Homo sapiens: one gene and its partners. The protein of the gene in region 3 binds, or shares a complex with, the protein of the main gene of each other region. Each region holds a gene or a part of one and is shown on either strand. Other genes may lie near its edges. The genes, in order: B9D2, TMEM231, TMEM237 and CC2D2A.

Region 1 (7,956 bases), on a different chromosome or scaffold from region 3:
CTGGAGTGCAGTGGCACAATCACAGCTCACTGTAGCCTCCAACTCTCAACCTAAGCGATCCTCCCACCTCCGCCACCAGAGTAGCTGGGACTACAGGGGCATGCCACCACACCCAGCTAATTTTTTGTATTTTTTGTAGTGATGGGGTTTCATCATGTTGTCCAGGCTGCTCTCAAACTCCTGGATTCAAGCAATCTGCCCGCCTTGGCCTCACAAAGTGCTGGGATTACAGGTGTGAGCCACTGTGCCCAGCCCCATATTCTATTGGTTAGAAGCAAATTACAAAAACTAGCCATACTGAAGGGAAGGAGAATTAGGCTCCACTTACTGAAAGGGGGCTGCCCAAGCATTTGTGGATATATTTTAAAACAGCTTCAGGCCGGGCACAGTGGCTCACACCTGTAATCCCAGCACTTTGGGAGGCTGAGTCAGGTGGATCACTTGAGGTCAGGAGTTCAAGACCAGCCTGGCCAACATGGTGAAACCCCGTCTCTACTAAAAATACAAAAATTACCCGGGTGTGGTGGCACATGCCTGTAATCCCAGCTACTTGGGAGGCTGAGGCAGGAGAATTGCTTGAGCCTGGGAGGCAGAAGTTGCTGTGAGCCCTGGCCCACAGAACGAGACTCTGTCTCAAAAAAACCCAATAACCACCCCCCCCAAAAAAAAGGTGACAGGTTTTCACTCTGTCACCCAGGCTGAAGTACCTTGGCATGATCACAGCTCACTGCAGCCTCAAACTCCTGGGCTCAAGGGATCCTCCTGCCTCAGCCTCCTAAGTAGATGGGACTGCAGACATGTGTCACCATGCCCTGCTATTTTTTTTTTAAACGTTTTCGTAGAAATGAGGGTCTCACTACGTTGCCTAGTCTGGTCCAGAACTCCTGGCCTCAAGTGATCCTGTTGCTGTGGCCTCTCAATGTGCTGGGATTACAGACAGCCATGAACCACCAGGCCTGGCCAACTTTCGATAATGTGGTTAGATAATTCAAACTTAAAGCTGTTGGAACTTTAAATTATTCCAAGCCTTGAGAGGAATGTTGCTATGTAGCCTGAGTCACGTAGCATGCAGTTACAACTTCTGCTTTTTCCTGTAAATGATTAAGAATGACCAAGCAGTGCCAGAGATAAGATCACCTCAGAACATTACTCCTAGGCCGGGTGTTGTGGCCTCACATCTGTAACCCCAGCACTTTGGGAGGCAGAGGTGGATCACTTGAGCCCAGGAGTTTGAGACAAGCCTGGGCAACAGAGTGAGACCATGTCTCTACAGAAAAAATTATTGAAAAATTAGCTGGGCATGGTGGCACACGCCTGTAGTCCCAGCTACTGGGGAGGCTTAGGCAGGAGGCTTGAGCCTGGGCGTTCGAGGCTGCAGTGAGCTGTGATTGTGCCACTGCACTCCAGCCTGGGTAACAGAGCAAGATCTGTTTGTTGTTGTTTTGTTTTGTTTTTGAGACTTTGTCTCACTCTTGTCCCCCAGGATGGAGTGCAATGGCACGATCTCAGATCACTGCAACCTCCGCCTCCCAGGTTCAAGTGATTCTCCTGCCTCAGCCTCCCGAGTACTTGGGATTACAGGCGCCCGCCGCCATGCCCAGCTAATTTTTGTATTTTTAGTAGACACGAGGTTTCATCATGTTGGCCAGGCTGGTCTTGAACCCCTGACCTCGTGATTTGCCCGCCTCAACCTCCCAAAGTGCTGGGATTACAGGCGTGAGCCACCGCGCCCAGCCCCAGAGCAAGATCTTATCTCAAGAAAAAAGAAAGGAGAAAGAAAGAAAGAAAGAGTACTCCTCCTCCTATCAGAATGTTAACGCAATCTTCCCTGCAGCATAGCAAGATGTACTAATGAAACTGTTGTAACATATGTACTGGTCCTGTAGCCTGGAATAAACTCTATAGTTAATCATATTTTCCTTTCTTTTCTTTTTTTTCTTTTTTGAGAGTAGAAGTCTGGCTCTGTCGCCCAGGCTGAAGTGCGGTGGCGTGATCTCGGCTCACTGCAACTGCTGCCTCCCAGGTTCAAGTGATGCTCCTGCCTCAGCTTCCCAAATAGCTGACACCACAGGCATGTGCCACCACACCCATCTAGTTTTGGTATTTTTTAGTAGAGACAGGGTTTCGCTATATGTTGGCCAGGCTGGTCTCGAACTCCTGACCTCAGGGTATCCACTCTCCTTGGCCTCCCAAAGTGCTGGGATTACGGGCATGAACCACCGAATCCGGCCTCAATCATATTTTCTGAATCTCATTATTTATAGTTGACGATAATTTATTTTCTTTTATTTAACATGTATACATGGGAGCCTTCAGAATGAAGACCTCAGCCGGGAGCAGTGGCTCATGCCTGTAATCTCAGCACTTTGGGAGGCCAAGGTGGGCAGATCACCTGAGGTCAGGAGTTTGAGACCTGCCTGGCCAACATGGCGAAACCCCGTCTCTACTAAAAATACAAAAATGAGGCAGGAGGTGCCAGCCAGGTTGTGGAGAGCCTTGTCATGCATGATAAGACTTTGGCTTTTACCCTGAGTGAAATGGGGACCACTGGACGGGTCTGAGCAGATGGGACCTGACTTAGGTGTTCACAGGGTTCCAGCTGCATGTGGGGTGCAAACTAGAGGGGTTGGCAAAGGGGACCCCAGAGACAAGGTCCCTGTCATAGTCCAGGTGATAGATGAACTTGGACAGATCAAGGTGCAGGGCGACAAAGAGGTGAGAAGTGGGATTTAGGGTGTATTTCAAAAGTAGAGGCAGTAAGATTTCCTGATGGACAAAATGGGGGCTTGAGAAAAGAGAATGCAAGGCTGGTGCCACCACTAGGGGACCAGGGGCCCCAAGAGCTGAAAGGTTAGAGCTGTCTACCTCACCCACACAGCATCCAGAAATAAATAAATAAATAAATACATTTTCCCCAGCTCCAGCTTAAAGGACAGAAAGATCATTTAAAAGTGAAACCTCTGCCAGGTGCAGAGGCTCACTCCAGCCTGGGCAACAGAGCAAGATTCTGTCTCAAAAAAAAAAAAAAAAAAAAGTAAATAAATAAAATAAAAAAGAAAATACAAAAAGTAGCTGGGCCCAGGCGAGGTGGCTCATGCCTGTAATCCCAGCACTTTGGGAGGCTGAGGCAGAAGGATCACATGAGGCCAGGAGTTCGAGACCAGCCTGACCAACATGGTGGAACTCCATCTCTACTAAAAGCACAAACATTAGCTAGATATAGTGGTGGGTGCCTGCAATCCCAGCTACTAAGGAGGCTGAGACAGAAGAATTGCTTGAACCTGGGAGGCGGAGGTTGTGGTGAGCAGAGATCATGCCACTGCACTCCAGCCTGGGCGACAGAGGGAGACTCTGTCAAAAAAAAAAAAAAAAAAAAAAACCCGGCCGGTCACGGTGGCTAACGCCTGTAATCCCAGCACTTTGGGAGGCTGAGGCGGGTGGACCACCTGAGGTCAGGAGTTTGAGACCGGTCTGGCCAATATGGTGAAAACCCGTCTCTACTAAAAATACAAAAATTAGCTGGGTGTGGTGGTGCACGCCTGTAGTCCCAGCTACTCGGGAGGCTGAGGCAGGAGAATCTCTTGAACCCGGGAGGCAGAGATTGCAGTGAGCTGGGATCGCACCACTGCACTCCAGCCTGGATGACAGGGGGAGACGCCATCTCAAAAAGTAAAAAACCAAAATTATAACGAGGGTACAACATTTCAATAGGATAACATTTATATTAAACAATTCAATGGAATACTTCACTAGTTGATATATGCATTATTAATGGGGTCTCCCTATATTCGAACTTCTGGCCTCAAGAGCTCTTCCCGCCTCAGCCTTCCAAAGGGCTGGGATTACAGTTATGAGCCACCGCGCCTAGCCAATGGTAGCTTGTAAATACTTTGTATCTATTGGCCTGGCTGGGTGGCTCACGCCTGTAATCCCGGCAGTTTGGGAGGGAGAACTGGGAGGATAGCTAGAGCCCAGGAGGTCAAGACAAGACTGGGCAACATAGCAACATAGCAGGACTCCATCTCTTAAAAAAAAAAAAAAGAATTAGCCAGCCGTGGTGGTGCATGTCTGTGATACCAGCTACATGGGAGGCTGAGGTAGGAGGATCCCTTGAACCCAGGAGTTAAGAGGCTGCAATGAGCTGTGATCGAGCCACCGTACTCCAGCCTGGGTGACAGAGTGAGACCCTTTTAAGGAGCCTTGATGGGACCTGATGACTGGCTTGATGTGGGAAATGATGGCATCTAGGATGGCATCCAGGGACAACATCTCCATTTCTTGATTGATAAATCAATCAATAGGAAAGAGGATTTTCTGCAAATAAGGGAATCTTAGTTCCTCATTTCTCTTCGCTACCCCAACCGCTCCTTGCTCAGAATCAAGCAGTAACAGTGAACTTGGTAGTAGCTCCGAGAAGGAAGTTGGACTTATCCAACTTCCTTCCTTCCTTGTCCTTGAGAAACCTAGGGGAACTCTAAAACGGAAGCAGAACCCACTCCCCAACTTCTCCACTCTCTGAATGAGGAGTGATTTTTTTGCTTTGTTTTCCAGTTACAAGGCCGGGGATGTACACGAGGTCCTGGAAGGAATTCCCCCTTGGTCCTGGTTCAATCTCTGATTTGTGATCCCGGACCACAGAGAGCTCTTCGGTGGGGTAGGCGCAGCACGGAGCAGTTAGGGATTTGCTTTTTTGGTAAAGAAGGTATCTGGGAGAAACTGCACTCAAACTTCCTCAGCCACACTCAACATGGCAGCTTCCTAGCCACGCCCAAAATGGCGGAACCCTTTGCCGTAGCTGGAGAGACGCTATTTTCCCAAAATGGAGCGGAGGAGGAAAATGTCCATCACAGCTTCACCCCGCCCCCCGCAGACGGCTAGCACCAATTAGTAGCGCGCAGAGCGAGTACAAAGCTAGGGGAGGAGCCTGCTGTTGCCCCAGCAACAACCACGGAAACCAAGACGAGCGCGGTCGCGGAAGTATCGCGGCTTACATATCTCGCAGCCAGGCGGGTCCTGGGAGAGGCGCGAGCCAGGCCTGGTCGGCGCCCGCGGAGAAAAGAAGCAGTCAAGCCCATGAACTACAACCCCGGTTGCCGCTTTCTCCTCTCCTAACCGTTAAGTGCGCTAAGGTAGGAATGACGCATGCGCTGCGCTTAGAGGCGGGGTTAAGTCGGACCTGAACTCATAACGCATGCGCCTTATGGAGCTTGCTGGGGGAGGGAAGCGGGGTGGCTGGCGTGACGCGGAAGGCGGGTCTTTTGCGCTCGTGGGCGGAGCCATAGCCCCTTCGGGCGGGGCTTTCCGCCGACCTGAACCCGAAAAGGTTATTTTGGACTTCCCAGAGTTAAATGCTGGTTCCCCAGACAAGGGTCCCCCCATTTTTTCCAGGCTTTCATGGGTTGGCAATTAGGATCTGTGGTCAAGACCTCAGCCTCAGGGGTGTGACGAAGCTAGCTTGGAATCCTAGTACTACCCTTTACTTGCTGGGCCTCAGTTTCCCCCCCGTCAAATGGAGATAATACACTTACCTCACAGGGTTGTGATTATATTTTTCCCCTCCCAGGGCCATGGCTGAGGTGCACGTGATCGGGCAGATCATAGGGGCCAGCGGTTTCTCGGAAAGTAGCCTCTTCTGCAAGTGGGGCATTCACACAGGTATTCCCCCAAGCCTGGTTCATTTCCACACCAAGACCCCTAGCCTAGAGGCTACATGCTCCTTCCTCCACCCCTTAACGCAGACTCTTAACCTCATTTCCATCAGTTCTCAGTACTCCAGGCCCAGCCCACACCCTGTCCACATGAGTCTCAAGCTCCCATCTTTGTGTGTGTGAGGGGTGGGATACAGACAGGGTCTCTCTCTGCGCCCGGGCTGGAGTAAGGTGGTGTGATCATAGCTCAGTGCAGCCTCGAACTCTCGGGCTCTAGTGATCCTCCCGCCTCAGCCTCCTGAGAAGCTGGGACTACAGACACGCACCACCAAATCTGGCTAATTTTTTTTATTTTTTGTAGAGACAGGGTCTCGCTATGTTGCCCAGGCTGGTCTCGAACTCCTGCGCTCAAACAGGCCACCCACTTCAGCCTCTCAAAGTGCTAGGATTAAAAACGTGAGCCGCCACGTCCCAGGAAAGTAATTTTGTTCATGCTTCCCCAACTGAGGCCCTATAGAGTCATGGTATAGTGTAATGGTTAGGGTCATGGGCTGCCAGATCTGCATTTAAATATTAACTCCCCCACCTATTAATTGGAGACCTTTGGACTCGACCACTTTGAGCCTCAGTTTCCTTGTTTCAAAGTGAAGCTAATAGTAGCTAAGAAGCAGCACAGGTTTGAGGTTAAGAGCACAGACTGCCTGGGTTCAAAACCAGTTATTGCTTGTTAAGGCACCCTTGGGCTGATTATGTGAACTTGGGCACTTCTCTTCACCTCGACTTCCTTGTTTGTACAATGAGAGTCATAGAAATATTTACCTGTTGAAGTTGTCATGAGTACTAAACGAGTATCAACAGCACTTAGAATAGGAATAGGGCTGGAATAGGAAGTGCTCATTCAGTGTTTGCCTGGCTTATACAAGACTTTGATGGGGTCTTGTTTGTAAAGCCTGGGGTATGTTGTTGCGTGGCACAGATGAATGTCTATGAAACAGATGTGGCCATTTGGCATTATCATGTCTTCAGGCCTGAGTCCTAGTCCCTTTTTTTTTTTTTTTTTTTTTTTTGAGACTCGTTCTGTTTCCCAGGCTGTAGTGCAGTGGTGCAATCTAGCTCAGCCTTCCAGGTTCATGCCATTCTCCTGCCTCAGCCTCCTGCATAGCTGGGACTACAGGCGCTCGCCACCATGCCCGGCTATTTTTTTTTTTTTTGTATTTTTAGTAGAGATGGGGTTTCACTGTGTTAGCCAGGATGGTCTCGATCTCCTGACCTTGTGATCTGCCCATCTCGGCCTCCCAAAGTGCTGGGATTACAGGCGTGAGCCACTGCGCCTGGCCCTTTTTTTTTTTTTTTTTTTTTTGAGACAGAGTCTCACTCTGTAGCCAAGCTAGAGTGCAGTGGCACGATCTCGGCTCACTGCAATCTCTGCCTCCTGGGTTCAAGCGATTCTCCTATGTCAGCCTCCCGAGTGGCTGGGACTACAGGCACCCGCTACCATACCCAGCTAATTTTTGTATTTTTAGTAGAGATGGGGTTTCACCATGTCGGCCAGGCTGGTCTTGAACTCCTGGCCTTAAGTGATCCGCCTGCGTAGGCCTTCCAAAGTGCTGGGATTACAGGCGTGAGCCACTGCGCCTGGCCCTTTTTTTTTTGAGACAGAGTCTCACTCTGTAGCCAAGCTAGAGTGCAGTGGCACGATCTCGGCTCACTGCAATCTCTGCCTCCTGGGTTCAAGCGATTCTCCTATGTCAGCCTCCCGAGTGGCTGGGACTACAGGCACCCGCTACCATACCCAGCTAATTTTTGTATTTTTAGTAGAGATGGGGTTTCACCATGTCGGCCAGGCTGGTCTCGAACTCCTGGCCTTAAGTGATCCGCCTGCGTAGGCCTTCCAAAGTGCTGGGATTACAGGTGTGAGCCACTGCGCCTGGCCCCTGGGTCCTTTTTGATTCTACAGGTAAGTGAGGTGGAAGTTGAAATTCCCAGGAAATCGGAACCCTCCAGCTGATGGATGAGGGGCAGGCTCTGGAGTCAGACTTGGTTTCCAGGTTGGACCACTCACCTTCTCTGTGACCCTGGGCAGAGGCTGTCCCCTCTTGGAGCCTCAGTTTCCTCATTTGTTCTTCATAGGGCTGTTGGGAAATCTTGCTTTTAAGGAGCCTGACGCAGGGCCTGGTGCTTCCCTCAACTCAGCCCAGAAGGGAGTAATGACTAACCTGATTTTTATTATTTCAGGGAGTTGCTGGGGATGTTGATCCAGCCAAGAATACTGAGGCAGTTGGATGAAAGGCTTGGGCTCTGCAGTTAG
Region 2 (7,304 bases), on a different chromosome or scaffold from region 3:
TGAGCCCAGGAGGTAGACAGAGGGAGACCCTGTATAAAAACAACAACAACAACAAACTACATTGCCACCCCAGAAAAGCTTTTAATCAAGAACAAGTAGTATTGAACCTGATATTTCAAAAGCATTTTGTGGCTGATGACGTTGTCGTCTTGGACTGTAGTAAGGACCCTAGGATGGTTTTCCCAAATGGGCAGTCTTGACCTCTCTATTAAGTCTGTGATGTTAGGATGTCAGCTGTTCTCTTCATCTAAAAGCCACTTCGAGGTTGCTTTCAAAGTAGTGGGAGTAACTACTGGACTCCACCCAGCACAAACCTCACGCCATCTCCTGACACTGCAATGTGATCCTTCAGGGCTTTTTTTTTTTTTTCCCTTTCTTCAGACAGTCTCGCTCTCGCTCTGTCACCCAGGCTAGAGTGCAGTAGTGCAGTCACTGCTTACTGCAACCTCTAACTCTTGGGCTCAAGCAATCCTCCTTTCTTAGCATCCCAAAGTGTTACTGGAAAGGGGTCCCAATCCAGATCCCAAGAAAGGGTTCCTGGCTCTCAACACAGGAAAGAATTTGGGGCAAGTCCACAGAGTAAAAAAAAATGGCTACTCCATAGACAGAGCAGCAGTATGGGCTACTCGACTGAGTAAATTTATAGTTATTTCTTGATCCATATGGTAAACAAAGGGTAGATTATTCCTGACTTTTCCAGGAAAGGGGCAGAGATTTCCCCAGAACTGAGGGTCCCTCCCCTTTTTAGACTATATAGGGTAACTTCCGGACATTGCCGTGGCATTTGTAAATTGTCATGGCACCAGTGGGAGTATCGTTTAGCATGCCAATGCATTACAATGAGCAGATCATGAGCAGTGAGGACGACCAGAGGTCACACTCAAGGCCATCTTGGTTTTGGTGGCTTTTGACTGGCTTTTTTTCTTTTTTCTTTCTTTTTTTTTTTTTTCTCTGAGACAGAGTTTCGTTCTTATCACCCAGGCTGGAGTGCAATGGCGTGATCTCGGCTCACTACAACCTCCGCCTCCCGGGTTCAACTGATTCTCCCTCCTCAGCCTCCAGAGTAGCTGAGACTACAGGTGCCCGCCACCATGCCCAGCTAATTTTTGTATTTTTAGTAGAGACAGGGTTCCAGGCATGAGCCACCATGCCCGGCCTTGGCTGGCTTCTTTTTAACTGCATCCTGTTTTATCCACAGGGTCTCTGTAACCTGTATCTTGTGCCATCCTTCTAGCTCATACTGTGACTAAGAATGCCTTACCTCCTGGGAAGACAGCTCAGTAGGTCCCAGCCTTATTTTACTTAGCCCCTATTCGAGATGGAGTTGCTTTGGTTCAAACACCTCTGACAAAAGTGCTAAGATGAGCCACTTCACCCAGCCTCAACAGCCTCTTGACTGGTCTCCCTGACTTCTGTTTTTCCTCACCCCTCACTCAATGACCCCATCCTGGTATACTGTAAACCTAAAATAAAATTCTAAGCTCCCAACCATCTGAATGGAACCCTTGTCTCAGCCAAGGGCATTCCAAAGTTAACCTGAAAAACTAGTCTGGCCATCATGGGAAGTGGGGAGTCAGACGTAACTCATTATACCCTCCTCTTTTTGGAATTCAGACCCAGCTGACCAGTATTAGCATCAACACATAGATCTTAAGACTGATATTAATAGAACAGACTCTTAAAGTCTGATAAGAAACATTTACAATCTGTTCTCTCTGAAGCCTGGAGGCTTCATCTGCATGATAAAACATTAGACTCCACAACCCCTTATTGTTTTTTGTTTTTGTTTTTTTTTTGAAATGGAGTCTCACTTTGTCACCCAGGCTGAAGTGCAGTGGTATGATCTCGGCTCACTGCAGCTGCTGCCTCCCGGGTTAAAGCAATTCTCCTGCCTCAGCCTCCCAAGTAGCTGGGATTACAGGTGGACACCGCCAGATGCAGCTAATGTTTTTTTTTTTAATACATATTTTTGGTAGAGACAGGGTTTCACCATGTTGGCCAGGCTGGTCTTGAACTCCTGACCTCAAGTGATCTGCCTGCCTTGGCCTCCCAAAGTGTTGGGATTACAGGCGTGAGCCACTGTGCCCCGCCCACAAACCCACACATTCCTTTCTATTGATTCCAGGTCTTTAGATAATAACCAGTTGACAATTGGAAAAATCTCTGAATCTGCCAATTCTGTGGTCTGGAAGCCCCACCCCACCTCCACTTGTCTCATCTTTCAGTACTGAACCAATGTACATCTTACACGTATTGATTGATGTCTTATGTCTCCCTAAATGTATAAACTCAAGTTATACCCTATCCACCTTGGGCGTATGTCATCAGGACCTCCTGAGGCTGTGTCACAGGCATGTCCTTAACCTTGGCAAAATAAATTTCTACGTTGATTGAGACTTGTCTCAGATACATTTTGGTTTACACTACTGACATGCTGTCATTAGAGTGACTTTTCCAAATCACAAAGCTTATCATGTCTTTCCACTTAAATGTCATTTTACTGACCCTTTAACAAATTTACTTATATTTAAATATTTTGTATTTATTTTTTTAGAGACAAGGTCTCCTTCTGTCTCCCAGCCTGGAGTGCAGTAGTGCATTCATGGCTCACTGCAGCCTCCTGGGCTCAAGCCTTCCTCCTGCCCAGGCCTCCCGAGTAGCTGGACCTACAGGCATGAGCCACTGTGCTCAGCCACTCAGGACCTTTTTGTTGTTGTTGTTGTTGTTTGAGATGGAGTCTCGCTGCCACCCAGGCTGGAGTCCAATGTGTGATCTCCGCTCACTGTAATCTGTGCCTCCCGGGTTCAAGCGATTCTCCTGCCTCAGCCTCCAGAGTAGCTGGGATTACAGGTGCCCATCACCATGCCTGGCTAATTTTTGTATTTTTAGTAGAGATGAGGGTTCACCATGTTGGCCAGGCTGGTCTTGAACCCCTGACCTCAGGTGATCCGCCCACCTTGGCCTCCCAAAGTGTTGGGATTACAGGCGTGAGCCACCGTGCCCAGCCATTCAGGGCCATTTGATGAAGAAATTGGCTGTGGACCATAGATTTTTTTAAAAAGTCCTTCTACCATGTTAGAAATATTGGTTGGGGGTGGTGGCGGGGGGGTGTAGGCATTCAATTAAGCAATAAGCCAGTGATCTTTGGGGAGGACCATATATTCCTGTAAAACTCGCGGCTGAGCTGTACCCAACACAGGGTTAACGAAGTGCATCAGAGCTTTGTAGTAATTCCACTCTATCCGTGGAAGAGCCAGGGGATTTGTGTTTCCGTGTCTGTCTTGCATGGGAGCATAGTGGAAGCAACAGAAAATCTGGGGGCAAAAGCACCTGGCTTTGATCTCAGCCCAGGACCAGGTCCAGGACCACGGCCAGGCTTGTGACTGACTGGACTTCAGTAGGAACCACACTGGGGGTTAACAGATGACACAAAAGCAGGTGTTCGTTCTGTGCGGGAGACGCGCTAGGGGAGAAGAAAAGGCACACACACAGTACCTTTAAGGGTAAGCAAGCTTTATCCCACGTAAATGGCAATGCAGATATTATAATAAGCAAATTAATATAATAAGCAGATTGATATAATAAGCAAATTGCAATGGGAAGAGGAGAAGGAAAAAGACATATATATATATATATTTACACTCACCAGACTATGGAGGATTCACCTCCAGACTGGGAAGCAACGACCTGGGCTCCAGAGCCGGCCACTCGTCAGTGCACAGACGAGGAGAGGTCTCATGAAGCTTTTTGGCGTGGTCTGGGACCCTAGATCTTTTTGTAACATGTTGTCTAGCATGAGGCCCAGTCACGAGGGCCCTTTGCGACTGGGCTCAAGGAACACAAAAAGGTCAACTTGTTTTTGCGATTGTTGTTTTTCAATAACTGACGTATAGGAGTAGACTGAAATAGAGATTTCTCCGAAACAGCGCTGGATGAACGCCTCAAGGGGCTCCCACAACCTGTTTAGGGACTTGGTGACCATTGTTTGTGTCCATGTCAGTTGAAATTTAAATATTTAGTTCTTCCTCCTCAGTGTTCAAGTCAACTTTTATGGGCATCTTATTTTACACAAATGTTAACACAGACAACAGCCACGACTCTGGTCCACGGAAACGTTCTATCGCCGCCCAGCCTTTACGCAAACGTACACAGCTCGAAAAGCTAGGCCGACCGTCCCCGGCAGCGCCACGCCCGCTAACCCCGCCCCCGCCACTGGCTCCTTTCGGTGCGGCCTTGCTATTGGCTCCTTTCTGTGAGCCGTCGGTTGCCGTGGAGACCGAGGCGATGGCAACCAGGAGAAGCCAAACTTGGTCCCCCGGCTCGCGGAGTGCCTGCGAGCGGTGCTCATGGCGCTCTATGAGCTCTTCTCTCACCCGGTCGAGCGCAGTTACCGCGCGGGGCTCTGCTCCAAAGCCGCGCTGTTCCTGCTGCTGGCCGCTGCGCTCACGTACATCCCGCCGCTGCTGGTGGCCTTCCGGAGCCACGGTGAGCCTGCCCCGGCCGCTGTGCCACGAGGCTCCCCGGGCGCGCTCGGCCAGGGCCGGCCTCCCTAACCGCCTCCCTACCGCCCTCTTTAACTCAGGGTTTTGGCTGAAGCGGAGCAGCTACGAGGAGCAGCCGACCGTGCGCTTCCAACACCAGGTGCTGCTCGTGGCCCTGCTCGGACCCGAAAGCGACGGGTTCCTCGCCTGGAGCACGTTCCCCGCCTTCAACCGGCTGCAAGGGGATCGCCTGCGCGTCCCGCTCGTTTCGGTGCGTGGTTCCCGCCTGGGCCTGGGGCAGAGTCGGGGATAGGGTGGGGATGGGGACTGGAATGAGGATGTGGGGCGAGCGGCCCCGGCCCTGGGGAGCCCAGCTTTGATCCTAAGGACTCGCGAACCCGCAAAGGTGGCGTTTCATCTCCTAGGACCTAGGGAATCGATCTTCTGTTTCATTCTGCTTCTCCCAGATGTCCCCGGCCCCCAGAAAGTTAGCCATGCTGTCAGCGTGTGCGCCCTGACACAGAGTCCAGAAGTGTGGGGGCAGCCTGTGTCTGCCCGGGTCACACCCGCGGGCCTGGCCTGATGGAGGGTGTTTGTGAAAGTCCATTTAGGAGCCTGGAAGGCCGCGCGCTGTTAATGTAGATAACCCCATTCTGTCGCGGCGTTTCTGCATCACACCACTATAGGAACGGAAAGGGCAGCATTTTTATGCAGACCTGACCCCTGGAAACCAAGGCGCTGATTGGTTAAGCGGCCTTCCCAGAACGCGCTGTGGCCGAGTCACGCCTCCCTGGGTTTGTCCCATTGGAGACTGCGCCATCCTGAAGCTGTCGGGATGAAATGGAAGCATGTTACTGTCTGTAATTTATTTATTTATTTTTAAATTTTTTCACCAGTAGAGCGCTGAGAGGAATCTGTAATTTAGTATTTGCTTTGAGATAAGCGAATGCTTCCTTTGTAGTCACTCCTTTTCACTCATTTTCTGAAAACGTTTTCCTTTAGAAGTATGAAACTTCTGGTTTTCCTTCTTTCAAATTCGAATCTCTTCAGACATATCTAAGATGATTGCCCTACAAGCCAACCTTGTATAGCTGAGGAGAAAAGAAAATCAGACTTGTTCCCAGCAACTAAATAAAATTGTTTTTAAAAATCCGATTGGTCGTATAAATAACTGCAAAAAAAATAGTAATAGGTTGATGCAAAAGTCATTGCGGCTTTTGCCATTAAAAGTAATGACAAAAAACCGGAATTACTTTTGCACCAACCTAATATGATTCAGGTTACTTTTCTCCTATTACTTTATAAATGTTCTTATATTCTGATTACAAAAGTGCATGCTCATTCTAAAATATGATAGAGTTACAGGTAGATATAATGACAGAAATTGAAGGCTCAGTTTTGTATATGTATCAATACTTATTAATCAGCTGTATTCTTTTTGAGGTTTGCTTTGACTTTTTCACTATTAGGGACAACATTTCTTTTTTTCTTTTCTTTTTTCTTTTCTTTTCTTTTTTTTTTTTTTTTTTGAGACACAGTCTTGTTCTGTTGCCCAGGCTGGAGTGCAGTGCTGCAATTCTCTGCTCACTGCAACTCTGCCTCCTGGGTTCAAGCAATTCTCGTGCCTTAGCCTCCCGAGTAGCTGGGATTACAGGCTAATTTTTGGATTTTTAGTAGAGAAGGGGTTTCACTATGTTGGCCAGGCTGGTCTCGAACTCCTGACCTCAGGTGATCCACCCGCCTTGGTCTCCCAAACTGCTGGGATCATAGGTGTCAGCCACTGTGCCCGGCCTAGGGACAATATTTCAATGAACAAGGTTTTGACTAAATCTTATGCCTTTAAACATCAAATTTTGAGGAATTGGAATAGCAGCTCTTTGATGAAATGGTATAAGTACATAGAAAACTAAGCAAATAATTATTAACTGCAGGGAAATGAAAAGTAAGGAAAACTGAGAACCAAAATGTTATCAGAGTTGTGAATAGGATTGACATAGTCTTAATTATATGAACACTGAATGTTTACTAAAAAGAGATTTTAACTCTATTGGGGGTAATGAGAAAGGTATTGGGTATGTGATAGGGGATGGTGGGAGGAATTGGGGGAGAGAAGAAGCTAAATCATCTTTCCTTGTGGGAACTCAATAGAGAATGCCTAAAACTGAGAAACTGAGAATTTTCAATGCAAATGTTATCTCAAGACCTGGAGATACATTTCTAAATGATCAGGTAAATGAGATAAAAATATTTGCCGCCAGAAATGATAGCTCACACCTGTAATCCTAGCACTTTGGAAGGCTGAGGCAGGAGGATTGCTTGAGCCCAGGAGTTCAAGGCCAGTGTGGGCAACATAGCAAGACCCCACATTTCAAAAAAATAAAAAATTAAAAAGAAATAGAGAAGTGGTACAATTTGCCCTAGCTTTTCTTCTTTTCTTTTTTTTTTTTTTTTTTGCAACAGAGTTTCACTCTGTCAGCCAGGCTGGAATGCAGTGGCACAATCTCAGCTCACTGCAACCTCTGCCTTCTGGGTTCAAGCAATCCTCTCGCCTCAGCCTTCCAAGTAGCTGGGACTGCAGGCATGCACCACCACTCCGGGCTAACTTTTTTGTGTTTTTTAGTGGAAACAGGGTTTCACCATGTTGGCCAGGCTGGTCTAGAACTCCTCAACTCTGGTAATACACTCACCTCAGCCTTTCAAAGAGCTGGGATTACAGGTGTGATTACAGGTGTGAGCCACTGCTTTGAAGTGAACAGAGTCTGGACTGGAACTCAGTATTTCTTATGCTATATCTTAAAATCTTAGCCCTTATTGCAACAAACT
Region 3 (6,853 bases):
AGCATCCAAAAGTAGTCTTTTTTGAGAGAGTGGCTAGGGACATTAGGTAAAGAGAAAGCAAAGATACTTTATTGAGGATTAATGTCATGGTAGTTGGAAGGAAAACTTTTAGAGAATTTTCTTGGGAATACTAACTTTGCATTTATATGAATGTATACAGCAGATCTGTTCAGAGTTTAAATAACCTTTGAACCCTTGTTCTCATTATATATGTGGTATATTTTACAGGGAAATTATATTTTCTTTCACACTTTACTTGTTATTTCTCTAGGAGAGGACTGCTGTTTTTTCTTAAAGTTCATAAAATAGATATATTTGTGTATATGAACCAAACTGAAGGCACTTCTAATGAGTGTTTCTACATTTTTAGGGAAGCAGGAATTGAGGAACAGATTCTCCAGCCATGGATTGTGGTGAATCTCGTGGTGGCTCTTCTGGTTGGATTATCTTGGCTATTTTTGTCTTATAGGCCAGGCATGGATCTTAGTGAAGGTATTAAAGAAAAAAAATAGCATAAGAATATCCTGAAATCTTCTATAATGGTTTTATAAACCTCCTTTTAATAGGTATAGCTTATAATATTCCAATAACAAAGACACATTTAAATTAAAATGATACAAGAAGAGAGAAAATAAAGTGGTGTAACAGAATGCCAAGAGAAGCAGGGAGGAGTGTCTAGGAGGGCTTGAGTCTGGAACTACTTAATGAGGGGCTTCTGTGGCCCTTGTGCATTTTCAGGAGGTATTTCTTCTCTTGGAACCCTTCAAGTAATGTAGAAAAAGTCTTTGCTCTTCACTTCTCTTAGTCTCCTGCTGATGAATTTTGAAATAAATCATGCTTTGTCTACATAGCCTCTCTGTCGGACACATACTCAAGTCAATTATTCTTCCTTCTCTATTTGGTACAAATTCTTAACCGTTCATTGGCTAACAGTGTTTAGTACTCTTTTAACATGCTCAGTGTGCAGTGATTCACTCATCTCTAGTCCCCAGACCCCTTTTGGAACACCTGAAGAAGAATCATCATATTAGCAAACTGCTAACCTTTTATGCTGCTTGAGGAACTGTTTAGTATTTGTATTGTAAATTGTGTTTCCTTGGCCAATGTTCAACAGTTTTACCCTTGAATATCTTTTTTTTTTTATTTTTTATTTTTGGAGATGGAGTCTCGCTGTGTCGCCCAGGTCAGAGTACAGTGGCTCGATCTGGGCTCACTGCAAGCTCCGCCTCCCGGGTTCATGTCATTCTCCTGCCTCAGCCTCCCGAGTAGCTGGAACTACAGGCGCCCGCCACCACGCCCGGCTAATTTTTTGTATTTTTAATAGAGACAGGGTTTCACCATGTTAGCCAGGACAGTCTCAATCTCCTGACCTCGTGATCCGCCCGCCTCGGCCTCCCAAAGTGCTGGGATTAAGGCGTGAGCCACCGCGCCTGGCCAAACATCTTTTATGGATATTTTCTGGGTCTTGGTTATTATTTTATTTTTTATTTGACCAACTATTTACAACCTATCTGCCTCAGAAGCCTTAGCATGCAGAATTTCGCCAACATCTATGCTAAGTAATAGTTTAAATGTAGAAAATGTCAGCTAATAACATTCTACATTGTGGCTGGGATCAAAACTGCATCTGGATTGTGCAGTATTCAGTCTAAATATTTCCAGAATCCTGTTCTTTTAAGGCCATGTTAGTCATACAACATGTGGATTTAAAAAGTAAGTATAAAATGAGATGATAATACCTGGCTTCTTGCGTTGTTTTGATGATTAAATGGGATGACCCATTTAAAATATCCTGGCACACATCTCTTGTTAGTTCCAAGTCCTTCCTCTGTATCTGTCCCCTATGTTTCAGATGATCTGATCACTGTAGAATTAGACATTTTAGCTGTTTAATGATCTTTGATTCTCTAAGTGACTTAAATTTCCAGGTAGGATTGTGTATATTGTCTCTATTACATTTTACTTTTAAGGGGTCTATAATTTAAAATTTAAATATTTTAAAATGTAAAACTTGTACATTTGTTATCAGCTTACCTTTTAAATCATATTTCACTGTCAAGAAATCTTACTTGAGGGCTTTCTATTAGTATATATTATGTCAATTTTTTAAAGGACTATTTATAAATAAGCTATACAACTCTGTTGGAGGTACTGGGAAACAATTTTAAGTATGATCTGTTCATTTTCTTCTCCAGAGTTAATGTTCTCCTCAGAGGTGGAAGAATATCCTGATAAAGAGAAAGAAATCAAAGCCTCTTCATAATACCAGCTCACCTTTGGAGGAATAATGACCCAGTATTTGTCCCATTTTTGTTTTTAAATGTATTTTTATAAGATGTATACATGTGTATTTGTAATAGATTTTTTGATTATATAATACTGAAACATCTCTCAATATTATGAAAAATGTTAAAATTGTGTTTGCTGTTTATGTCTAAACATTAATTTGTCTAGCATTATCATCTTAATGACAAAGGGAATAATGAACTAGAAACCAGCAAGTGAAAGTGTTTATTTCCTATTTTCTCAAAACAGTTGTATTTATAACTATTACCTTAAAAAGCACTGGTTTAGAAAAAGCCATAACTTAAATAGTGTTATAAAATATATATCAGGTTTAAACATAAATTTAGCGAATATGGTAGAAGGGAAAAAAGCCTTCATTTTTGACCTCCCCTTACTGAATAAATTGAAATATGAAGTTTGTCTTTTCTGAAACTGGCTTAGTGATTGAGTATCATGTAATAATTATAATATAATTTAGCTTGAAAGATGCTCTACATTATGACCAATAAAAAGGGAATGTATGTTTTGTTTGAAAAATTATATAACCTAAATTTTTTACCTAGAAGTAACTAAAAAGTTGCTTCTCATTATAATCTGTACTAGTGGTTCTCATATCTGGTTGTACATCAGGATCATAGAGGGAGATTTTAAAAATCTATGTAGCAAAAGAGGCTGAGCAGGGCAAGGCTCAGGGGAATAAAGGAGAGACCTGTGAGCTTGTGGGCTCCCAGTTGACATCTGCAGTACCCTTTCCTCTGTCCCTTTTTTCTGAGTGACAAGAAATAGGAGTAGAAATTCACCATCTCTGTTCTCCAGCTCTTTGTCAGAGAGGTTTCTGGTTTTCCAGGAAATCCCCCTCTTGAGATGGGTCCTGCACTGGGAAAGATCTCTTCAGAACTATATCCAATGGTACCTCAGCTGTTGTATATGAGACCCTAAAGCTCAAGTTGAGGAGAAGACTAGCTATGGGAAAAAATGTTTCAAAGGCTGTTGAGCACATCAATAAAACTATTGAGCCTGCCCTGATTAGCAAGCACCTGAATGTTATAGAACAGAAGAGGATTGACAAATTGATGATAGAGACAGTTGACCCTGACAATAGGTCTAAATTTGGAGTGAACATTATACTGGGAATCTCTTTTGCTGTTTGTAAGGCTGGAGCTGCCGAAAAGGGATTCTCCCTGCTGTCACAGAATTGTGAATTTGCTGGCAATTCTGAAGGCATCCTGCTAGTTCCAGCTTTCACTGTGACCAGCAATGGTTCTCAATCTGGCAATAAGCTGGCAGTATAGGAGTTCATAATCTTCCCCGTCAGCAAACTTCAGGGAAGCCATGCTCGTTAGAGCCAAGGCTTAGCACACTTGAGCCGTGTCATCAAAGAGAAATGTGAGAAAGCTGCTGCCAATGTGGGGGATTGTGGTAGGCTGCATAATGTCTCCTAAAGATGTCCATGTCCTAATCCCTGGAACTTGTGAATATACTACTTTACTTGGCCAAAGGGATTTGCAGATATGATTAAGGTTATGAACCTTAAAACGGGGACATTATCCTGTATTATCCAGAAGGGTCCAGTGTAATCTTATGAGTCCTTAAAAGCAGAGAAGAAAGCCTTTTATGTCTGTGGTCAGAGAGGTCAGAAGTTATGATATTGCTGGCTTTGAAGATGGAAGAGGGGGCCATGAGCCAAGGAGAGTGATGACCTTGCAGCTGAGTACGGCCCTTGGCCAACAATGAGCAAGGAAATGGATTTCAGTCACATAACCACAAGGAACTGAGTTCTATGAGTATCCCAAATGAGCAAGGAAACAAATCCTCCCCTAGAGCCAAGAAAGGAAGGCAGCTCTGTGGATACCTTGGTTTTGGCCTGGTGCTGCCCATGTCATACTTTTGACATACAGAACTGTAAGATAGCAAGTGTATGTTGACTAAGCTGCTAAATTGGTGGTGATTGCTTATGGCAGCAATAGAAAGCTATATATCCTAGAGAATAAAGAAGGCTAGAGCTGCTGTGGAATGCACTTGGGAAAGCTGGCTACATTGATAATATGTAACTGCCATGGGCATAGTTGCCTTTGTATTCTTCCAGGTCTGGGAAGTACAACTTAGACTTCAGATCTCGTAATGACCCAGGAGGCATATAAACCTGAGCAGCTAGTGGCCCTGTACAAGTCCTTCATCAGGGAAAAACATTGAGTATTCCCTGATTAAGGACTTGTACAGAGGACTCTGTTTTCCCTGGTGTTTCTGGTGTGTCTCAAAAATTGTTTGACTGTGATGACAGGGAAGTTTGGAAGAAGTTCACTGCTAATGCATGTCTCCAGGAAGCAGGGAATGATCTCACAGTGACACTTGAGGCACATTGCTGAGGCCGTCGATGAGAATTCATGTAACTTTCTCCAGCTTACAGTGGACTAGATTGACATGCAAGCTGATCCAGTCCAATTGGTAGGGCATCATGGTTTCTCATTACTCACTGACTTAAAATACTTTTATTGCCATCCTGGTGAAGCACTGCACTGGGTAGATAACACAGGGGCACCTTGCTGATCAGAGCCCTTGGCCAGGTACAAAGAGCTCAGTTTCTAAAACTCTGTCATTTCAATAATGTTATAAATTGAATCATACAGTATGTAATTTTATGGGATTCGCTTTTTTTCTGTTGATCTCTTTTTTTCTGAGTCATCTCAGCTGTTGTGTGTATCAATAGTTCATTTCCTTTTACTGTTTTGTTTGGTTTAACTCATTGACCTATTGAAGGATATCTGGGCTCATTCCAGTCTGTGAATAATGCTGCTGTGGACATTCATGTGCAAGTTTTTGTGTGAACATTAAGTTTTCATTTCTTTAAGATAAATGCCCAGGAGTGAAACTGATGGGTTGTATGTAGTTACAAACTGCCAAGCTGTTTTCCAGAGTTGGCGGTACCATTCTAATTTCCCATGACAATTTTTTGAAGAGTCCAAGCTAGTTGCTTTAGAGTGCCTCACCTACATTTTTTAATTGTCTGACTTTTTCCTAATGACATCACTTAATTTGTTCCTCAATCTCCTGAATTTCCTATAGACTGGAGGTTAGGTCTGGTGGTTTGATTAGATTTTTTAAAAAAATATGACTTCATCTGTGATGCTGTGTACTTTATGTTGCATAACATGAACCCTAAGAACAGAGTGAGCTGCTGGACAGCAAGTTTCATGGGGTGCAGTAATTAACACACCACATAGTATAAATCTGAAATAATGACAAATGTGTTAAGGGCCTTGGGATATTGGGCCATGTACTCTGAGGAGCACAAGGTGAGGTGCAGGTTCCTGCCCCTAAAGAACTCTATCTTTTGAGATTAGCAACTAACAGTGTGAGCCCACTAATAGGATGTGAAAGTTGTCAAAATCAAGTTCTGGTCATTGTGTTAAAAATCCTAACAAATAGAGCTGGGGAAGGCCGTGAAAGGACGATTTTCATGCACAGATGTCTGATAATGAGGACTATCATTAAAAGACTGCACAAAACCACACCTTGCACAAAGGCCATCACAACCTGACACACACAAAAAATACTTCTATGAGGACATTTGCCCAGCAACTCCCTGTCCAATGTCCAACTGGCAACATCCTTGTTATTGATCCTTGTAGCCAAGGATAATTCTCTCAAAACAATCATTTTTGCTTTAAAAACCGTTGTCTTCCTTGACCTCCCTGTATATGCACATAGTTTACTGTGGCACTTGTATTCTTATTGCAATGCCTACTCCTGAATAAACATCATTTTCTTTCAGAGAGTCTCCCTCTCTGTTATTTAGGCTGACAAGGATATGCCAAGAAGTAGCTTGGATATAGCAGTTAACTCTGCCTTTAGGATATGTGTATGGGGATATAAGAGTTAACTAAAAGCTGACCTTTGAGTTGGTCCTTGAATAAAAGAAGAATAGATTCCAAAAATAAGAGGAATAAATAATGATCCTGAGCTAGGAGAGTACATTTTGCAGACCTTTGGTTTCCATATTAAGAAATTCAGATTTTTATGTACAATAAAGAAGTTCTGGAATTCTCTGGTTTTGTTCTGTTTGCATTTATTTATATTTTTAACTTTTAGGTTCAAGGGTACATGTGCAGGTTTGTTATATAGGTAAATTTTGTGTCATGGGGGTGTACAGATTATTTCATCACCCAGGTAATAAGCCTAGTGCCCAAAAGGTAGTTTTTGATCCTCTCCCGCCTCCCACCCTTCGCCGTCAAGTAGGCCCCAGTGTCTGTTGCTCCCCTCTTTGTGTCCATGTGTTCTCATTGTTTAGCTCGCATTTATAAGTGAGAACGTGGTATTTGGTTTTCTGTTCCTGTGTTAGTCTGCTTAGGATAATGGCCTTCAGCTCCATTCGTTACTGCAAAGGACTAATACGGGGGCAGTGAAAGGGATGGATGACAGCAGGTTGGCAGACCCATGAGTAAATCATTGCAATTGTCTCGTGTGTGTGTTGTCCCAAATTAGGTGCCATAAAGGGAAAAGGTAAGTAAGATTCAGATATTTAGGGTCAGAATTTTAAAATGTGTCTGAATGTTTAAGATTTTGTGGA
Region 4 (3,206 bases), on a different chromosome or scaffold from region 3:
TCATGGCCAAGCGCAGTGACTCACACTTGTAATCTCAACACTTTGGGAGGCCAAGGCAGGCGGATCACTTGAGCCCAAGAATTTGAGACCAGCCTGGGCAACATAGCAAGACCTTGTCTCTATAAAAAAGAAAAAAAAATTAGCCAGACATAATGGCATGCACCTGTGGTCCCAGCTACCAAAGAGGCTGAGGTGGGAGGTTCACTTGAGCCCGAGAGTTGAGGATGCAGTGAGCTGTGATTGTACCACTTCAATCCAGCCTGGGCAACAGAGCAAGATCCTGCCTTTAAAAAAAATTAGTAATAATAAACTTTTGCTGCATGTATTGAATTCAGCTATCCCCAAGTCATTCAGTACTCCCTCTTCTGTGTTACATTTCAAGCATCTGTTATAGCTCTTAGGATACACATACTTTCTATTTATAGGACTATTTCCCATCTCAACTCATATACAACCCTTAAGGACAGGACTGCATGTTAATTTTGAATCCCCAGGGAGTAGCCCATTATTAGACATTAACTATGCCTGGATAATCACAACTCCATCAACAAAAATATAGTTATACAATCATCTGAATCCCCACTACATACTACATACATTTTTTAACAAGGGAAAAGTGAGTCACCAAAAAATGGAATTTATGTTTTGTGAACAGGATTGAAAAAATACTAAAAGAAAAAATCATGGACTGGAGGCCACGCCATCTGACTCGGTGGAATAGGTATTGTACCTCTACTCTGCGTCACTTCTTGCCTCTGTTAGAAAAAAGTCAAGGAGAAGATGTAGAAGATGACCACAGAGCAGAACTGCTAAAACAGCTGGGAGACTACAGGGTAAGTTACAAATGGATCCTAAACTGACTGTGGATTTCCTTGTTTCAAATTGGAAATTAGCCAATAATAGGTTTCTGGAATCAAAAGACCCACGTTGCTCCCAGAAGTACATATTTAAAGCAGCATAAACTAAAAACTGTGATCATAAGTTTTAAACCTCAATAATCATGAAATAGCAAAATACCACCATTTTTCATATAAGTATCCCATGAAAAATACCTTTTATGAAATACATTTACGTATCAAAAAAATGAAAACATCTGGCTAAATCATGTTAGACACAACTGTGCATAAGGATCAAAACACTCTAGAGCAGTTTTTTTAAGGATATGGTTTTATACTGATTGCTTTTCATTGCTAAGAAAGGTGGTTATTAATAGACGATATACCCTCTTTACTGCCTGCTGCTATGTTCACATGCTATAGCTGGATAATAAAACCTACAAAGCAGGCTCGTAACTAAAACTTAACAGTAAGCCTTACTAGCTAAACAGTGTGAAGGTCAAATTAGATCACTCACTGAGTAAAATTTATCCTTTAACTTATAAGGCAGGTTCTCAGCCAGGATATTTTCAGTTCAAGTGTCAGAAAACTCAAAAAGGCTTGAGCAATAGAGAATCTACTGGCTTAAGTAAAGCTTAGAGGGTAGCTATCAGGGCTGTCCCACTCTTTTGCAAGTCCTCCCATTCTGCCCTCCTCTTCCGTATGATGGCATCATCCTGAGACTGGGTTTCCTCATGGAAGCAAATGCTGGAACACTTACAGAATTCACATCTGCGCACATACTACCCAAAGCAGGAGAACATCACGTGCCATTATTCCTAACAAGTTTCCCAAGATTCCCTCTGAGACTCCCTTTGATCACTTGCCCATCCCCGTGGATCAATCATTGTAGCCAAGGGGACGAAAATTATTGTCGGGCGCTATGGCTCACACCTGTAACCCCAGCACTTTGGGAGGCTGAGGCAGCGGATCGCTTGAGCCCTGGAGTTCAAGATCAGCCTTGGCAGCATGGCAAAACTCCATCTCTACAAAAAATACAAAAAGTAGCCAGGATGGTGGCACTTGCCTGCAGTCCCAGCTACTCAGGAGGCTAAAGTGGGGGGACCATTTGAGCCCAGCAGGAGGCCGAGGCTGCAGTGGTGAGCCATGATCATGCCACTGCAGTCTAGCATGGACAACAGTCAGACCTGTCTCAAAAAAAAAAAAAAAAAAGAAAAAAGAAATGTATTTGTTAGTTTAACCTATGTATCTGGAATTACAATGGTTACGATGCATACTAGGTACTTTCAAAAAGAGGGAACAGTGATGGAGTGACTAACAGGTGGCTTATACACCTATATGCAAGGAAAACAAAATGGATATTAAGCAGCTCTCGATTTTCTGTATTGCTAATAAAAAGCTGAGTAGAAAAACACAAGCAAATAACTGAGATCCAGAACACTTATCTTAATTGCATACATTTACGTAGGAAAAAATGTATTAAATCTTCAAACTTCACTAATGACTACAAATGTTTTTTCCCTTCAGTTCTCTGGATTTCCTCTTCACATGCCTTATTCTGAAGTGAAGCCTTTAATTGACGCTGTGTATAGTACTGGAGTACATAATATTGATGTTCCTAATGTTGAATTTGCTTTAGCTGTATACATACACCCATACCCCAAAAATGTTTTGTCTGTTTGGATCTATGTTGCCTCTCTTATACGCAACAGGTAATTTTTTTCACTGTACTTTCTGTATCATGTAAAAACTACACTTAGGATATGAGAAAATTTTAAATTATATGCATCACATCAGAAGAACATATTATTGGCAAATAATAAAATTATCAACTGTTTTCAAACTGTGCAAAGTGTTCTATTTAGCAGTCTGCCTTGTGTCTGCTACTTGACCCTGAAATTCAATTGAGACTACCCACAGTACGATATATTATGAGCTTCCTGCCTCTATTCCTTTGTACTTACTTACCTTTTGCTTGGGCAAATATTAACAGCAATGGAATGAAAGTGAGAGAAACTTAACAAGTTTTACCTTAGAGCAAGGTAAAGCTTTAAAGAGAGCATCATTAGAGCCTTTAGAGTTCCTCCTCCTTTGCTGTGTTTAATTCAAATATTAGTTGAAATAAAAAGCAGTAGTGAGTTATATTCCATCAAATGATTCTTCATCTTTAGAAAACACTAAGACAATTTGCCTGAACTGAATGTTTACCAGTTTTTATTGCTACTCCTCCTCCTCTCTCCAAATAAACAAAACAAATAAATATCCAAGACTGCAAGATTACTTCATCTTCCACAGGTTTGCATGTACAGGCATACCTCGGAGATAGTGTGCACTTGGTTCCAGACCATTGCAATAAAGTGAATACTGCAA

The links.
Region 1: TMEM237 (region 3) and B9D2 share a complex: the UniProt entries of both Homo sapiens proteins name them as parts of the tectonic-like complex.
Region 2: TMEM237 (region 3) and TMEM231 share a complex: the UniProt entries of both Homo sapiens proteins name them as parts of the tectonic-like complex.
Region 4: TMEM237 (region 3) and CC2D2A share a complex: the UniProt entries of both Homo sapiens proteins name them as parts of the tectonic-like complex.

Annotation. Positions count from the first base shown.
Region 1 is NC_000019.10:41,361,131-41,369,086, reverse strand, and holds the start of B9D2 (B9 domain-containing protein 2), read left to right. Parts: upstream 1-4,937; 5' UTR 4,938-5,129; exon of another isoform or gene 5,130-5,140; intron 5,141-5,161; exon of another isoform or gene 5,162-5,323; intron 5,324-5,563; 5' UTR 5,564-5,567; coding exon 5,568-5,655; intron 5,656-7,956. UniProt on the Homo sapiens protein: Component of the tectonic-like complex, a complex localized at the transition zone of primary cilia and acting as a barrier that prevents diffusion of transmembrane proteins between the cilia and plasma membranes.
Region 2 is NC_000016.10:75,553,252-75,560,555, reverse strand, and holds the start of TMEM231 (transmembrane protein 231), read left to right. Parts: upstream 1-4,346; coding exon 4,347-4,485; coding exon of another isoform or gene 4,486-4,582; coding exon 4,583-4,752; intron 4,753-7,304. UniProt on the Homo sapiens protein: Transmembrane component of the tectonic-like complex, a complex localized at the transition zone of primary cilia and acting as a barrier that prevents diffusion of transmembrane proteins between the cilia and plasma membranes.
Region 3 is NC_000002.12:201,619,665-201,626,517, reverse strand, and holds the end of TMEM237 (transmembrane protein 237), read left to right. Parts: intron 1-370; coding exon 371-492; intron 493-2,195; coding exon 2,196-2,263; 3' UTR 2,264-6,332; downstream 6,333-6,853. UniProt on the Homo sapiens protein: Component of the transition zone in primary cilia. Required for ciliogenesis.
Region 4 is NC_000004.12:15,598,874-15,602,079, forward strand, and holds the end of CC2D2A (coiled-coil and C2 domain-containing protein 2A), read left to right. Parts: intron 1-655; coding exon 656-833; intron 834-2,363; coding exon 2,364-2,552; 3' UTR 2,553-2,679; downstream 2,680-3,206. UniProt on the Homo sapiens protein: Component of the tectonic-like complex, a complex localized at the transition zone of primary cilia and acting as a barrier that prevents diffusion of transmembrane proteins between the cilia and plasma membranes.